2 separate regions of the Homo sapiens genome follow, and region 1 is linked to region 2. Evidence: fine-mapped expression QTL. Tissue or cell type: regulatory T cells. Region 2 holds a variant in brackets; the other region holds the start of a gene. All regions are shown on one strand. Distances are between the middles of the regions.

The links. PIP is the estimated chance that this variant, and not a neighbour inherited with it, causes the effect.
Region 1: it holds the start of HNRNPD, and the variant in region 2 is fine-mapped to the expression of HNRNPD in regulatory T cells (Bossini-Castillo 2019, PIP 0.95).

The regions. Positions count from the first base shown.
Region 1 is chr4:82,369,445-82,377,560 of GRCh38, forward strand. It overlaps HNRNPD (heterogeneous nuclear ribonucleoprotein D), which reads right to left and starts at 4,547. Exons shown (of 9, transcript NM_031370.3): 1 at 4,002-4,547; 2 at 2,084-2,140. The coding sequence starts at 4,234. It overlaps HNRNPD-DT (HNRNPD divergent transcript), which reads left to right and starts at 5,124. Exons shown (of 2, transcript NR_183813.1): 1 at 5,124-5,221. RefSeq lists enhancers at 3,096-3,145, 4,506-4,675 and a silencer at 4,046-4,145.
Region 2 is chr4:82,695,028-82,703,027 of GRCh38, forward strand. All of the region lies in intron 2 of SCD5 (stearoyl-CoA desaturase 5), which reads right to left. It overlaps LOC124900727 (a long non-coding RNA gene), which reads right to left and starts at 4,367. Exons shown (of 2, transcript XR_007058166.1): 1 at 2,993-4,367. The variant GTT/G (reference allele first, on the strand shown) is at 4,543.

The DNA of each region.
Region 1 (8,116 bases), 330 kb before region 2:
AAGGAAAAAAACCTATTTCTAAAACCAACTGATTTTTAAAGTATTTTAGGATGAAACTGTAATCACTTTATTCTCAGATTTGCAGAAGGAAATGCACACAGAACTGTGTTTAATAAATTCAATTTGGATACTCTATTAACCAGTCTTACCCTCAATATTGAGACTATAAAACTGTTGCCCTTATAATATCCCTCAAAATGGGAGAAAGAGGAAGGGACAGATACGGTGGGGAGTGCAGACACCAAAAAAAAAAAAAGAGAGAGAAAAAAGTCTGAAAGTTTTTCATTCAAAAAGAAAGCCTTAACGTCTGGAACAGGATAGGGCTGCATAATTGGAAAGTTAAGAAAAGTCAAATATTAGAGCCCTTAAAAATGAGAACATTATTTTTAAGTGTAATTTTAAAATCAACCTGGCTAGGCCGGGCGCAGTGGCTCACGCCTGTGATTACAGCACTTGGGGAGGCCGAGGCAGGCGGATCACCTGAGGTCGGGAGTTCGAGACCAGCCTGACCAACATGAAGAAACCCTGTCTCTACTAAAAATACAAAATTAGCCAGGCATGGTGGAATATGCCTGTAATCCCAACTACTTTGGAGGCTGAGGCAGGAGAATTGCTTGAACCTGGGAGGTGGAGGTTGCGCTGAGCCAAGATCACACCACTGCACTCCAGCCTGGGCAACAAAAGCTAAACTCCGTCTCAAAAATAAAATAAACCTGGGTAAAATTTTATTTTCAGTAAATGACAGTTGGTTACTATCTAGAATGTTTATTAACTATGAATATAAACATTTCTCCATTTTTCCTGAGATTATTCAAAAAAGTTGTAATATTACATCGTTTTAGGTAGCAGGTCAAGTGTAATTACTTCGAAGAGTCAAAACACTGACCTTCAAATTTAAGTTTATGGTCATTTCAAATCACTGGAAACAATTACATGAGACTCAAAATACATAATGGAGTAATGTCAAATAGTTTATAGTTTAATCTTAATTTGCCACTATTAGCTAGCAGTGAAATTGAGCTGCTAGTGCCCACCACTCACCAAATACAGGGAATAACATTCATCGAAACTGTGACCCCAGTCTTTTTTTTTTCCTCTTTTTTGCTTTTCCCCTTGCCTGTTTCCCATCTGCTTTTTCTCCAAGGTAAAGCTGGACTGATTTCAGTGGATGAGAATACAGTGATAAGCAAATCTTTAAATGTTACCCTAAATAGGCTCTTAAAATAGAATGTAGCTTGTAAAGATATAAGTTAACTGCCTGCAAGTTAGTGGCCTTCTACTCTCCAGTGGTGGTGTATAAACCCCTGAAAATTCAAATATAATCCTAAAAGCAGAAAGACTGACATTTAGGGGAGGGGAAAGGATGGATAAAAAGAACAATACTCAACCTACCAGCCTCCAAAGAGAAGTCATGCAATTGTGAATACATGTCAACCAACTGTTATTAATATTCCAGCCAAATCACACTGAAAATAAAAAATCTGGTAAGAGCTGTAGTGGAAAGCCACATTAGCCCACCTTTTAATGGTATATATATACACACACACACACACACACACACTTCTTATTAAAGGTCTATTTACAAATATGCTAGGTAAAAGACAAACATTTTTCCATAATACACAGTGCTGCTTAAAGAACTGCTTCAGACATCTCCAGAATATTTCAGTATAACATGCATGACATTTTAAACACAATATTTTATATCAAGGAGTCTTCATATTTAGCCATTAAACTTAAATTCCAACAAAAATATTTTTCATCTTAAAATAAATCAAATGTGAAGATTACGGTAATATTTTTTCTTGCTCGATATAAAAATATCGTTACTAATTGTTTAGCTTAAATTGCCAAACTGCAACTACATGCATTACCACAGACCAAATACCATGTAACGGCATCAATTTTGCCCAAAGATTACACATGATGCCTATAAAAGGTATATATCCCAGGTACAAACCTACTGTATGTACTATGGTCTAGAATTTCCTGGGGATCAATGGGCAACTAACCAATACACAGCCTCTACATATTATGACTACTGAAACCTTTATAATACAGAAATAAAATTTAAAAGTTTTACCATTCTTCCCGCTGTGCCGTCGCTGCTTCAGAGTGTCGTGGGGAGGAGTTTGAATGGCTAGGGAATTAACAACCGGTACAGCAACCAATCAAAATTCTAGTTTTAGTTTTTGACACTGTTAGGGTTAAAAACTTTAATTCATTTACACTTCAACAGTAGGTAACTATAAAGTCAGCTGCTTTGCGATTTGAATTATCAGGGCTAACAGAAAGCCTGCCCCAAACAGGAAGTTATACAATTAATCATTTTGGTGCCTCTGTCCAAAGAACAGAATTCAGCAAACGAAAACCAAAATGTTAAAGGTTTTAAGTTTCCAAATATCTAACATCTTCCTTTCTCAAATAAGCTATATACAATTCGAGTTGGTTCTGTTTAATTTTTAAAAGTTTGCTTCCCTTCCCACCACCACTCCCCCAAAACCAGCACTATCATCAAACAGCCTGACAAGAATCTGCCTAGGCTGGGCTTAATAAACCCTATATTCCAAAGTGCTTCTCCCCTCCCAACTTTCCCTCCAAATCCTGGGCTCTTTCTCAGTAAAGGAAATCGTGTTTTCTAATACTAGATTAAAGCGACATCTTGTTATATCCACCAACACCTTTCTCTTTACAGTTAAAAAAAAATTCAGACACACACACACCCCTCCCCATTACAAAAAGGAATGGAAGCGTGAACCCACGATCATCGGTCAGTAATCGGAGCTAAGAAAACTCAACCAAGAAACCTGATTTAGTCCCTCCTGCTAACTCCCGTATTATGTTCCCAATCCCAAATGCTGCATTTTAATACACTAAATGCAGATTTAGGTAGTATATACAACTGTTATTTCAATTGGAGGAAGCAAGTTAATACTAAGAAATTTGCACCAAAAAGAAAAAAAAAGTATCCCATAGCACAATACAGGATTTGTTTCTCTTAAGAGGACTACAGGCCTCCCTTAGTGGGCGGGAAACAGATATCAAGACACCAAAATAGGATCCTGGGCACCGGGAAAAAAAGGGGGCTGGGGGTTGTAAAAAATTAGGTTGCACATAAAAAGTAAGGTACAATCTGTACTAACAGTTGGGGAACCCAATAGCTGAGGGCGCGAAAAGGGTGCGCGGTTAGAATAACTCAGTGGGGTGGGGGAAGGGTAGATGCTAGGCCGGAGATAGGAACAGCTCCAGTCAAGTGCAGGCCCGATCGACTAAGAACTTAACCAGAGCCCGCGGAGCAAAACCAATGTACCAACAAGAAACTCGGAGCATTTCACCAGACCCAATTTGGTCTGCATGTCAAAATGTAGGGCCTGTATGAGTATGCCATTGTGCGATAGCGTATGGTGGAGAAAATGAGTAAATCCTTAGGCGAAACTTATTCAAAATCCCAAGAAAACAGTCGGCCTAAGGCCGACAAGGGAGAGGCAGAGGTGGACAGCCTACGCGTTCCCCAAAACATGTGCTTATAAACAATCGCATCGTTTCAGGATGGTGGAGAAGCACCAAATAAACCTTAGTAATACAAACAGAGAAGCTGTTTGTGTCTGTGTTTTTATGCCCAAGACTGTAGAAAAAGGGAAAAAGAGGGGACAGCATGGAAAGAAAAAAGGTACCCCACGACAGGCGGGAAAAAATCCTGGCGGCTAAGTCGGTGGGAGGAGACCCATGGCGAGGGAGGAAAGGAGGGCGGGCCGAGGAGCAGCATGGTGACGGCTAAAGGTGGAAACGTGTGTGATGGGGGAGGGGGGCGATAAGCAGGCAAAGGAAGAAGGAAATGAAGGTCCGGGGAACCCAACATAGAAAAAGGGAGACCAGTGCAAGGAGGCTGCATGGGGGCCCGGAGAACGGGCTGAGAGCGGGAACCAGGCCTAATGGCGGGGGAATAAAGAGGGGGAGGGGGACTAGTTGGGCCTGACTATCCTGGGATGCCCCTTACTCACCCTTCATCCTCCTCGTTCTTACTGGCGTCAATCTTCGCCCCCTCCGACTCGGCGCTGCCCCCTTCGGTGCCTCCAGACGCGGTTCCGCCCCCGGTCCCGGCTCCGCTTCCCGCCGCCGCCGCTGCCCCCTGTGTCGCCGCCACCATGGCTCCCTCCTGCTCGCCCGCCGAGCCGCCTACCGCCGCCGTTGCCGCTGCCGCCGCCCCGTCCCCGCCGAACTGCTCCTCCGACATAGTGCTAGTGTCTCCGCCGCTGCCGCCGAGACTACACCCGCCGCTGCCGCGAACCGAAACTAGCAGCAAAGTAATCCCCGCCGCTGCCGCGCGCCCGCTCTACCTCGCGAAGCACACAAGACAGGGAAGGCGCGCGCGTGGCTGCAAAGGCTCCTGCGCCTCTCCCTGGCCTGCCCCCTTCGCCTCCCACTCTCGCGCGGCGCACACTCCCGCTCTCTCCCGCTGCACTAAAAAAGAATAAGCACCAGCGGCGGCCGCTCTCGCCTCCTCCTCGCTTTAATGGCGCCGCCGCGGACCACCTAAAATGGCCGACGGAAGAACGGCGCGTCCCGGTCACGTGACGCGAGAGCGCGCCCTTCGCGCGTCCCCCCACCCCTATCCCCCTAGTTTTTTTTTTTTCCCTTTCCTCCTCGGTCCCGCCCTCTCGCTACCCTTTATACCTTCCTCTCACGCTCCGCGTTGCACAGCCTTGGGGGCCTTTAAAAGGAACCGGAAGTGTCGTGAGCTAAGACAGTCGCGCGGGGACCATCGAGAACAAGGAGTGCTGTTTCGAAGTAGCGGCTAGAGGGGCCCCCTGCCTCCGCCCCCGCCCTTCCGAGGATTCCTGGAGTCCACTCACCCCTCCCCACCACTCCAGTAGCGGCGGGAGCAGCAGCGTTAGGCCGGGGTGTGGCTGCACCTCTGCGAAGGCTGTCGTGCCCCGTGCAGCTGCGGCGTTCGGGTGGGGGAGGGGAGGCTCACACCCTGCGGCGGCTTAAGCCTGGATTTACGCACTGGAGGAGGGAATTAGCCCTGAGATGTCAGCCCTGTGCCCCTGGCGCTGTCCACCCGGACGCCCGCGGAGCGCCAGGCGCCGCAGCGGACCGCGCGCGCACTGATTGCCGCAGCTACTCTCCCTGCCGTCGCCGCCCGGGACCGGGTGACATTGAGGTTTTCGTCTATCGCCGCTGGGCCGATAGGGCTTCTTTTTAAGATTTGGCTTTCCAAGTAAGATTTTTGTTTGCCTGCTTTTCTCCTGGAATTTTTTTGTTTTTGGTCGAAGAAGCAGGTAACTTGCATATCTTAAGGAAAACATTGTTTTTGCTTTGCTTTTGTTGTTTAAAGATCCTAAAACGTACCGTGATTCCTTTACGTTACTAATAATTGGAAAGTGTGTTAAATCAAGGGTTCGCTTAATGTTCTTTAGCCTTTGTACATAGAATATATAAATGTCGTGAGTCATCTTTACGAGGTTTATGAGTTTGTGTTCGGGTTTGGCTTTTTTGTTGTGTGTGCGTGGTTTTTTTTTTTCTTTTCTTGTAACACCGTTAGGCGTTTCATTAAGGTGTATAAAAAGTAATTTTATACACCTATTAAAAATTCCCGCTGCCTCGGCTGGAGACTGGATTATTCGGGCTTTGGGATTTGCTGCTTCCAGCAGTATCCTTAGAAGAAAATGAAGCTTCTAGGTACTTCTGTAGTCAACAAATAATTATTTGCCTGTTTAATTAAAGTGTTCGGGCACGGGGGAAACAAAGACGAGTTTGCAGACTCCAGCAAAAATCTTAAGAGTTTAAGTATTTGGGCCGGGCGCGGTGGCTCACGCCTGTAATCCCAGCACTTTGGGAGGCCGAGGCGGGCGGATCACGAGGTCAGGAGTTCGAGACAAGCCTGACCAACATGGTGAAACCCCCGTGTCTACTAAAAATACAAAAATTAGCCGGGCGTGGTGGCCGGTACCTGTAATCTCAGGTACTCAGGAGGCTGAGGCAGGAGAATCGCTTGAACCCGGGAGGTGGAGATTGCAGGGAGTCGAGATCATGCCACTTGCACTCCAGCCTGGGCGACAGAGCGAGACTCCGTCTCAAAAAAAAAAAAAAAAAAAAAGTTTAGGTATTTTCCACTGCAGTTAAACGAATTTGTATTAATTGGACACTATCCAAAAATCTCAAAGGAAGATTATAAGTAAGTTTTATTAATCAAGTTAGTAGAATTTACATTACAGAATAATTAAAACTCAAGAATACAGGTCAAATTCTGAAAACGTCCTAAAAATATAATCTTACCAAACTCCCGTAATAATCAAGTCACATAAAGGTAATACCAAGAATGTTTACCGTAAAGTGGTAGTGACTCCACATTTGTCTCCACCTGCCAGAATATTAGCAAAGGATAAAGTGGATATGGTGCTCAAACCATATATTCCGGGTTAGATACAACTAAGATGATTGACTGAAGGGAAGTCTGTTTAATCTTTTCTGGCTCAAGTGACGGTAATTGTCATTTATTTTGATCTTAAGATATCATTAGACATACCCACCTTTTGGTAATAGTGACTTTTCCAAAAGGTTCATTTTGATTTCACATGTAGCTTAGGAGCTTCTGGAATTCTTAGAATTTATGTCAAAAGTTCCAGACAACCTAGGAATGATTTTAAAGCTAACACCTTTACATGCTTTATGAGGATGTATGATGTCCATATCACTGATAGTCCTTGATATTATGGCCAAGATCTCTACATCCAGGATGTGCTCCTGCATCCACACAATATTCTTCTTGGAACTCACTTAACTTCTGGCAGGCGTGGTGGCTCACGCCTGTAATCCAGCACTTTGAGAGGCCAAGTCGGGAGGATTGCTTGCCTCAAGGAGTTGGCCATCAGCCTGGGCAACGGAGTGAGACCTTGCCTCTACAAAAAGTCAGAAAATTAACCTGGCATGGTGGTTCCTGTTGTTCCAGCTACTCCTGAGGCTGAAGTGGGAGGATCACTTGAACCTGGAAGGTGGAGGCTGCAGTGAGAAAGGCAGAGTGAGACCCTGTCTCAAAAACAAACAAATGTTACTATTTATGTGAAGTCTTCCCAGGCTTCCTGAGGCAGAATTAATGATCCCTTTTCACAGCCCTTTATCTTTACCTCTGTTATTCTTCATTGTTTTCTACTAGACCATGAGTTCTTAGAAAACAGTGTCTTCTATGTATCTCTCCCTCCCTAACACACTCTCACACACACATAAACACAGCAGCAGTATATCCACACTATGTAATTGCCAGTTGAATTATTGAATGACAAAATAATAAGTATGTCCAACTTGTTAGATTAAGGGGCTTTCAAGCAAACTAGGTGTTCTTCCAGGGACTTGAAAGTCTCCTCTCCACACCATCTCATTTCATCTCTGGCATTAAAAAAAAAAAAACTTTTGGCCAGGTGCTGTGGCTCATGCCTATAATCCCAACACTTTGGTAGGCCAAGGAGGGATGATTGCTTGAGCCCAGGAATTTTTTTTTTTTTTTTTTTTTTTTTGAGACAGAGTTTCACTCTGTTGCCCAGGCTGGAGGTGCAATGGCGCGATCTCGGCTCACTCCCGGGTTGACGCCATTCTCCTTCCTGTCTCCCAAGTAGCTGGGACAACAGGCACCTGCCACCACGCCCGGCTAATTTTTTTTGTATTTTTAGTAGAGACGGGGTTTCACTGTGCTAGTCAGGACGGTCTCGATCTCCTGACCTCGTGATCCGCCCGCCTCGGCCTCCCAAAGTGCTGGGATTACAGGTGTGAGCCACCGCGCCCGGCCAAGCCAGGAATTTGAGACCAGCCCCGGCAACATAGCAAAACCTATCTCTACAAAAAATTTAAAAAATCAGTTCCTGCCCACCCAGGGACGCCTTGGGTTGTGTTTAACCCGTTTCTGTTGCCGGGTGCGGTGGCTTACGCCTCTAATCCCAACACTTTGAGAGTCCGAGGTGGGTGGATCACTTGAGGCCGGGAGTTCGAGAGCAGCCTGGGCAATGTGGTGAAACCCCATCTCTACTGAAGATACAAAAATAAGCTGGGCGTGGTGGCGCACGCCTGTAATCCTGGCTACTGGGGAGGCTGAGGCAGGAAAATTACATGAACCCACAAGGCA
Region 2 (8,000 bases):
CCCTTGCAGCAGGCGTCTGAAGTGGGGACAGCCATGTGGAGCACTCAGCCTTTAACTTGTGGGATCTGATGTTAACCCCGGGTGGTTAGTGTCAGAATTACACTGAAGTACACCAACTTGGGGTGGACACAGAGGACTGGTGTGCAAGGCCCTGATCACGCAGGGCCCCATAGAACATAACAGTGAGGTTGGATTTCATTCCAAATACAATGCTAAGCCACTGAAATATTTATTTATTTATTTAGCTGGAGAGTCGTTTAATTTCCAATAAGCTCTCTCTGGCTACAATATAGAGAGGGGCAAGCATTGAATCAGAAGACCAGTTCAGGAGGCTTTTGCAGTAGCCTAGGAAAAAAGTTGATCTTGAACTAAAAGGTGGTAAAAATGAGAAGTGTGCAGATTCAAGATGTAATTTAGTGATAGAACTGAAGGGATTGGCTTAAAAATTGGTGAGGGATAACTAGGGAAATGGAGAAATCATGGATGATACCCAGACTTCTGGTGGGAAAGCTAGGAGAAGAACAGAAGAACAGTTTCGGTGAGAAGGTAGAGTCACAACTTTGATTTGGGGCATGCTGAGTTTGCGAAGCCTAAGTTAGGACATCCAATAAGAGATGTCACATGGGTAACCAGATTTGTAACACACTATACCCTGTCAGCTTACTTCTTCAATCTGGGTGATTTTCTAACTATGCTGTGACCTTATACAGTATGTTCTAATCATTCCTCTCTCCCTACCTTTGCTCAGATGTTTTCCCTACCCTCCTCTTCTTCTTTGCCTAGACAAATCCTCTTCATGTGCAGCTCAAATCTCCCCTTCTGCAGTAGGCTTTGTCCAATGATCCTAGCCCATATTCAAATTTCTGCAGCCCTAAAAGTCAGTGTGACACTTTTGAGCAATTTAACTCCACATTGTCTTTTTATAAGAGTCTTTATTGCACACAAGTCTAGCCAGCTCTATCAGATTGTAAGCTCCTCATCCAAGGGCCACTTCTTAGATATTACTTGTGTTCTTCATAAGCACATAGTGGCTTATGCACTTTTAAATGTAGTGGTAATTAAACAGCAGATTTACATGAAAAGCTATGAAATATTCAAATGGAAGAAGGTAAAAATAATCAAATGCTTCTGCCTTCTGAAAGAGTTTTTAAAAGCAAAGCTAGAAATTTCCATTTGGCATCTGAAACTCAATAAATATTATCATTAATTAAAACTGCTGATTCAATGACTCCTGTAGACATTGTATCTTTGGAGCGTGATAAGGCATTGAGGCAGCATTCCTGAGATAATCCCGTGACGAGAGCGCTGGCTGGCATTAATGGGAATTGGAACAGGATGATTGAAAAGCCTGGACTTTGATAAACAAGGACCAATGATGAAAAACAATTCAATATCTAATAAAGGGGTGGGGAAGAGGCCACTAACAGAAGGCCTCACTGTGTCTGTTAGATCTGTTTCATTTCGTATCTTCATTAATGTCTGGGAACAAGGCTTACACATTTTGTTAATAACATTTCTGATTGGTACTAAATTAGGAGGTGCTGCAGACATCATTGAGGAAAGAGGAATAACACAGATGGATCCAAAGAGGTTAGAAATATGAATAGAAATTATCACAATGAGATTTGATTTCAGAAAAATGCAAATGAAGGCAGCTGGGGGAGAAATCATCCAAAATGCAATATAATCAGTGGGTTGGGAAACCTAGAAAGCAGCAGCATAAGAGTGTCTGGCAGGCTAGCAATGGAATAAAGAATATGCAATGACAATGTGCTGTCTCATCCCACATGGCTGGTGACAGGTACAGGGAGAAATGACTTGTCAAGGAATTGCATTGCAATACAGTCTTCTTCAATGTCCATAAACATTTTTGGAGATGGTTTGGGAAAATAAACAAAATAAGCTCAGACATTTGGGCCTTAGTTTATTCAGCTGTTAGAAAAGAATTAGACTCGTGGCTTCTAAGGTTCCCCAATTCTAACCTCCTGTGATCCCAGCTCTAACCTTCTGTGGTTCTAAGACAAAGAAAGGTTGCGAGAAAATACATGATTAAGGAGGTTCACTGTGTGCAGCACTTCTAAAGATCTTTAGGAAAAGAAGACAGGATGAAACACAAAGCTTGAAAATATGTTTCCAAATAGATTCCCAATTGACAGGACTGCATGCGGAATTCACCTTCAAAACAGTGTCTTTCTTCCAATACAGATGCCGGGCTAAATTAACATAAAATCTGATAGTTATTTGTTTACAAAAATTATCTCTACCAACTATTTCTTCAAATAAAAACTCTTTAAAGTATTGCGGTTTTTTTGGTTTACAAAAATCTAATCGCCTTAAAGTGGTTAGAAATATATCCACTGTACAAAGCAGGTAAGATCTGCATTAAAGAGTTCCCACCGTATCTGGAGATGGTGCTGTGAGAAACAGACTAGCCCTGTTGGTTGGTCTGTTCATCTGTCTAATTACCCTCTTGCTCAGACTGTCACATTTTCATCCCCTTGAGGTTCATTTTCTTAGATGATTTCTCTCATCTCACCTACTTTCACTGACCTAGATCCCCAACAAATAAGCAAGTAAGGCATCTTAGGGGTGGGGAAATTTTATTTTCTACCTTAATAGGTTCATTTTTGTTGGTAGAAAGTATAATTAATCCTGCCAGGTAAGTGCAGAAAGAAAATGCCGTACCCCACGCAGCAGCCTCTGGAGAGTTTCCTGGTTTCCTTTCTCTCTCTCTTTCTTGCTCTCTCGCTCACCTGCTAGGCCACCTCCCACCTGCACCACTTTGTCGGAGTATTCCGCATAACGGAAGGGGTTACAATGCAGCATGCATGGAATGACAATGCTTTAATGAATTGATAAATCACCGTCTTCACTGCTTAGAGACGACCAAGCTATTTGCTCTTTTCTCATGACTTCCAAATGTTCCAAATGTGCCCTGGATGGTGAAATGCTGTGGAAGAAGATAATGTGAGGCATGATGTGCAAATCTCACCTTCCAAAATCACACCAGGAAAAGCTGTCAGGGCATCTGGGTCAGGACCACTTCTGCTGCTGCCTGTTTACATGGAGGAGAAAACCAACAACACCCACCCATCTTGAAAGGAAGAAGGCAAACCTGTTTCTGATGTGCAGAAGAAAAGTTGTGCATCTGAAGCTTAGGCTCATGGCTAGGAAAGGTGGCAACACTGAAACAGGATTTCTGAAGGGAGACTTAGAACCCACAGAGAGCCACATAAGGTTAAGGATTCCTGAGCTGCACTAAAGTTCTGGTGTTTTGTTCTCTTCTACACAACCGCCACTGCATGCTGCTGCTAACAGCATGAGCTGTACTTGAGGGTGCTGCCTCGCACACAAGTCTCCCTCCTTGACATGCACACCCCCCAGAGACCCAGCCTTGGGGGATGGTCTATTATCCTGAAACAGGCACAAACTCTTTGGGGTCTCCTGACTGTGTTCTGAGGCTTACTCAAGCCATGGAAACGCATGAGGCCATGTCACTCCCTGCCTAAGACCTGGCAGTGCCTTCCTGTGATATGTAGAACAATATCTGAACTCTGCCTGACAGAGCCTTGCACTGATGTGGCCCCCATCCCCCACTCTGGCCTTGCACTCACATGGACCAGCCACGCTGGCCATCTTTCTGCTCCTTGGACACAGCATCCTCATTCCTGGTTTTGCTTTGACTCCTCCCTCTGGATGCTCTTCCTCTACCCTCCTCTCCTTCAGGTCTCAGCACTAATGCCACCTCCTCAGCAAGGTCTTCTCTGACCACACTTTGTAAAGATGCCCCATCTTGGGCCTCTATGTGATGTTACTCTGTTTAATTCTTTATATCCTTCTCTCTCTGAATACATTTGTTTGTTCATTTGCTCACATGTTCATTTGCTGTCTCTCCTACTGTAATATACACGTTATGAGGACAGGGACCTTGTCTGTCTTGTTCTCCTGTGCCTAGAACAATGCTTAACACATGTGTTTGCTGAATGAAAGGATAAATGTGCATTTGGACACTGGGAGAGGCACTAGAGCAGGGGTCCGCAACCCCCGGGCCACGGACTGGTATGAGAATCTAATGATGAATGTTATGTATTTGAATCATCTTAAAACCATCCCCCCACCCTGCCATCTATGGAAAAATTGCCTTCCATGAAACTGGTCCCTAGTGCCATAAAGGCTGAGGACTACTGCATTACAGCACAGCAGTAAGAGGGTGACTTCTGGAGTCCAGATGCTTACATTTAAACCCCTCTTCTGTCACATAAATCCGAATGTCCTTGGATAGGTTACATAACCACTTTTCTGTTTTCTCGCCTATCAAATGAGGAAAATAATAGTACCTACTTTGTAGGGGCATTATCAATGACTTTTTTTTTTTGAGACAGAGACTCGCTCTGTCACCCAGGCTGGAGTGCAGTGGCACAATCTCAACTCACTGCAACCTCCACCTCCCAGGTTCAAGCGATTCTCATGTCTCAGCCTCCCAAGCAGCTGGGACTACAGGCACACGCCACCATGCCTGGCTAATTTTGTTTTTTGTTTTTT[GTT/G]TTTTTTTTTTTTTGAGACAGTTTCAGCCTTGTTCCCCAGGCTGGAGTGCAATGGCCCAATGTCTCATGCCTGTAATCCCAGCACTTTGTTATTTTATTTTATTTTTTTGAGATGGAGTCTCCCACTGTCACCAGGCTGAAGTGCAGTGGCACAATCTCAGCTTACTGCAACCTCCACGTCCCAGGTTCAAGCGATTCTCCTGCCTCAGCCTCCCAAGTAGCTGGGACTACAGGTGCACGCCACCACGCCTGGCTAATTTTTGTATTTTTAGTAGACACGGGGTTTCACCATGTTGGCCAGGATGGTCTCGATCTCTTGACCTCGTAATCCGCCTGCCTCGGCCTCCCAAAGTGCTGGGATTATAGGCATGGGCCACCACACCTGGCCCAATCCCAGCACTTTGGAAGGCCAAGGCAGGTGGATCACTTGAGGCCAGGAGTTTGAGACCAGCCTGACCAACACGGTGAAACCTTATCTTTACTAAAAATGCAAAAACAAGCTGGGTTTGGTGGCGCGCACCTGTAATCCCAGCTACTCGGGTGGCTTAGGCATGAGAATCTCTTGAACCTGGGAGGCGGAGGTTGCAGTGAGTCGAGATCACACCACTGCATTACAGCATGTGCAACAGAGTGGGACTCCATCTCAAAAAAGATAAAAAAGAAAAAGAAAATATTTAAGTAATAATGGCTGAGAATTTTCCGAATTAATGACAAGCACCAAACCATAGATCCAGGACACTCAGAAAACTCCAAGCAGGATACATACCAAAAAACCCTACACTTAGGGTTTACACCATGCCCAGCTAATACTTAGGTATCATCATATTCAAACTGCAGAAAATCAAAGACAAAGAGAAAATCTTGAAAGAATCCAGAGTGGAAAAAATCCCTCCTTACCTATAAAGGAGTGAGGAGAAGAATTATACCAGGTTTCTCTTCAGAAACCAGCAAGCAAGAAGAGAGTGAAATAAAATATTTAAGTGTTGAAAGAGAAAAATCCACCCACCTAGAATTCTGTACTCAGCAAAATTACTCTTCGAAAATGAAGTAGAAATAAGGACTTTCTCAAGCTGGGTGTGGTGCTATGTGCCTATAGTCCTAGCTACTAGGGAGGCTGAGGTGGGAGGGGCGCTTAAGCCCAGGAGTTCAAGGCTGCAGTGAGCCATGATTGCTCCACTGCACTCCAGCCTGGGTGACGGAGTGAGACCCTGTCTCTAAAAAAAAAAAAAAAAAAAAAAAAAAAAAAAAAAAAAAGACATTCTCAGACAAACCAAAATTGAGGGAATTTGTCACCAGTATACTTGCCTTGCAAAAAATGGTAAAAAGAGTTCTTCAGAGAGAAGAAAAATTATATCAGAAACCTGGATCTACATAAGTGAAGGTAAAATAGAAACTTTTATTATTCTTATTCTTAATCTAACACATAACAATTTGTTCAAAATAAGAATAGTAACAATTTGTTTAGTGATTATAGCTTATGGATACGTAAAATGAATGACAACAATGTCGTAAAAGACAGGAGGGAGAAATTGGGAATACACTGTTAGAAGGTCCTTGTGCTACTGCAGGTACTATTATGAAGTGGTACAGTGTTATTTGAAAGTGGGTTTCGATTAGTTGTAAATGTATATTGCAAATTCTAGGGCAATCCATAAAAATTTTTAAAAAGAAGTATAATTCATATGTTAAGAGAGGACAGAAAATAGACTTATACAAAATGGTCCATTAAAACCACATAAAAATAGAAAAAGAGTAGAATACACAAATAAAAAGTAAGAAAAAGAGCAGCAAATGGAAAACAGAAACTTGGTAGATATTGATCCAACTATATCAATAATTGGTAACTTGGTAGATATTAGTCCAACTATATCAATAATTACTTTAAGTGTGAATGGTCTAAATATACCAATTAAAAGACAGACTGTCAGAGAGGATTAAAAAAAAAAAAGACTAAACTCTATGTTGTTTAGAAATCATGCTGTAGGACAGCACATAAGAATATCCAGTGGGTGGCCTGAATCAGGACAATGGGGTTTCAGTCTGTCTATCCACTAATTAGCTGTGTGAACTTCGAGAAGTCACTGGTATTCTCTGTTTACTCCTCTGTAGAATATGAGAATTTAAGCTAAATCCCTTTAGTTCTCTTCCAGCTCTCAATCCAATGCCTCATTACCATGACTTGATAAGGAAATATGAGCCACGAGGGAGTGGGCTGAAGCATCTAGTAGGTGCTTTTGGTTGGACTGGGTCTGTGAGAGACCCAGATGTAGCCAGCAGAAGCAGATGCATGAGCGTGACAGCACAAATCTGAATCCTGGCTCTTCCTTGTGAAAACTTAACTCTTGGAGAACAGGCATCTCTCACCTGGGTCCATCTTTGACTTGGAGCAAATTATAAGGAAGTTGCAAGCAGTCTTTAGGTTGACTTCACCCTACTGGCAAGGAAGGAGGATAGACCATAGAGGAACTCAGGAGATCTTTGCTGAATACAAGCGTTCAGGTTCAGAGGGGACAGAGGATTTTATAGCTCCTTATCAGGCATTCCTGCCCCATCATCATCTTTTTTTTTTTTTTTTTTTTTTTTTTTTTTGTGAGATGGAGTCTCACTCTGTCGCCCAGGCTGGAGTGCAGTGGTGTGATCTCATCTCACTGCAACCTCTGCCTCCCGAATTCAAGTGATTCTCCTGTCTCAGCCTCTCAAATAGCTGGGACTATAGGCATGCACCACCATGCCCAGCTAATTTTCGTATTTTTAGTAGAGACGGGGTTTTGCCATGTTGGCCAGGCTGCTCTCGAACTCCTGATCTCAGGTGATCCACTCGCCTCGGCCTCCCAAAGTGCTGGGATTACAGGTATGAGCCACCACGCCCAGCCCATCATCATTTTTTTAGACTAAAAGTATCTCCACCTTTCCTACTATTGCCTCTCAGCCCCATACATACATCTTCTATAGAAGAAAAAGAAAAGGAGTTTAAAATGTTTAAGTCTCAACGTTAAGAATACTGTTCTTAATGCTCAAGGTCTTGTTTGTAGCATCTAGCAAAAACCCTGCTGATCCCAAACAGAGACAGCTATGGCATGACTTGTCCATTTTGGCCAATGGCATGACCATTCCGGTGAAGGAGAGAAGAGAGAGAATCTTTGAAACTATCTTTAAAAACCCATGGATTATCAAAGGGAAACTAAATCAATGACTGCATTAAGTCAGGGTTGTAAGTCACCATCCTACACTGGCAGATCATAGCATTTTTTCATTTCCCCAGGTTGTTCTCCTCATAGGGTTAAGTGGTTTAAATAAATTGTTCTAGACACTGACTAGTTCTAGTTCTGTTCTAGTTCTCTCCCACTGACACAGTTCTGCATGTTATGGAAACTGGCCCTAATCTGATCTTAGAGAGGTACCTTCCACCTAGGTCTAAGTGACATTGTTATAAAACCCCAGGTCCATGAAACACTG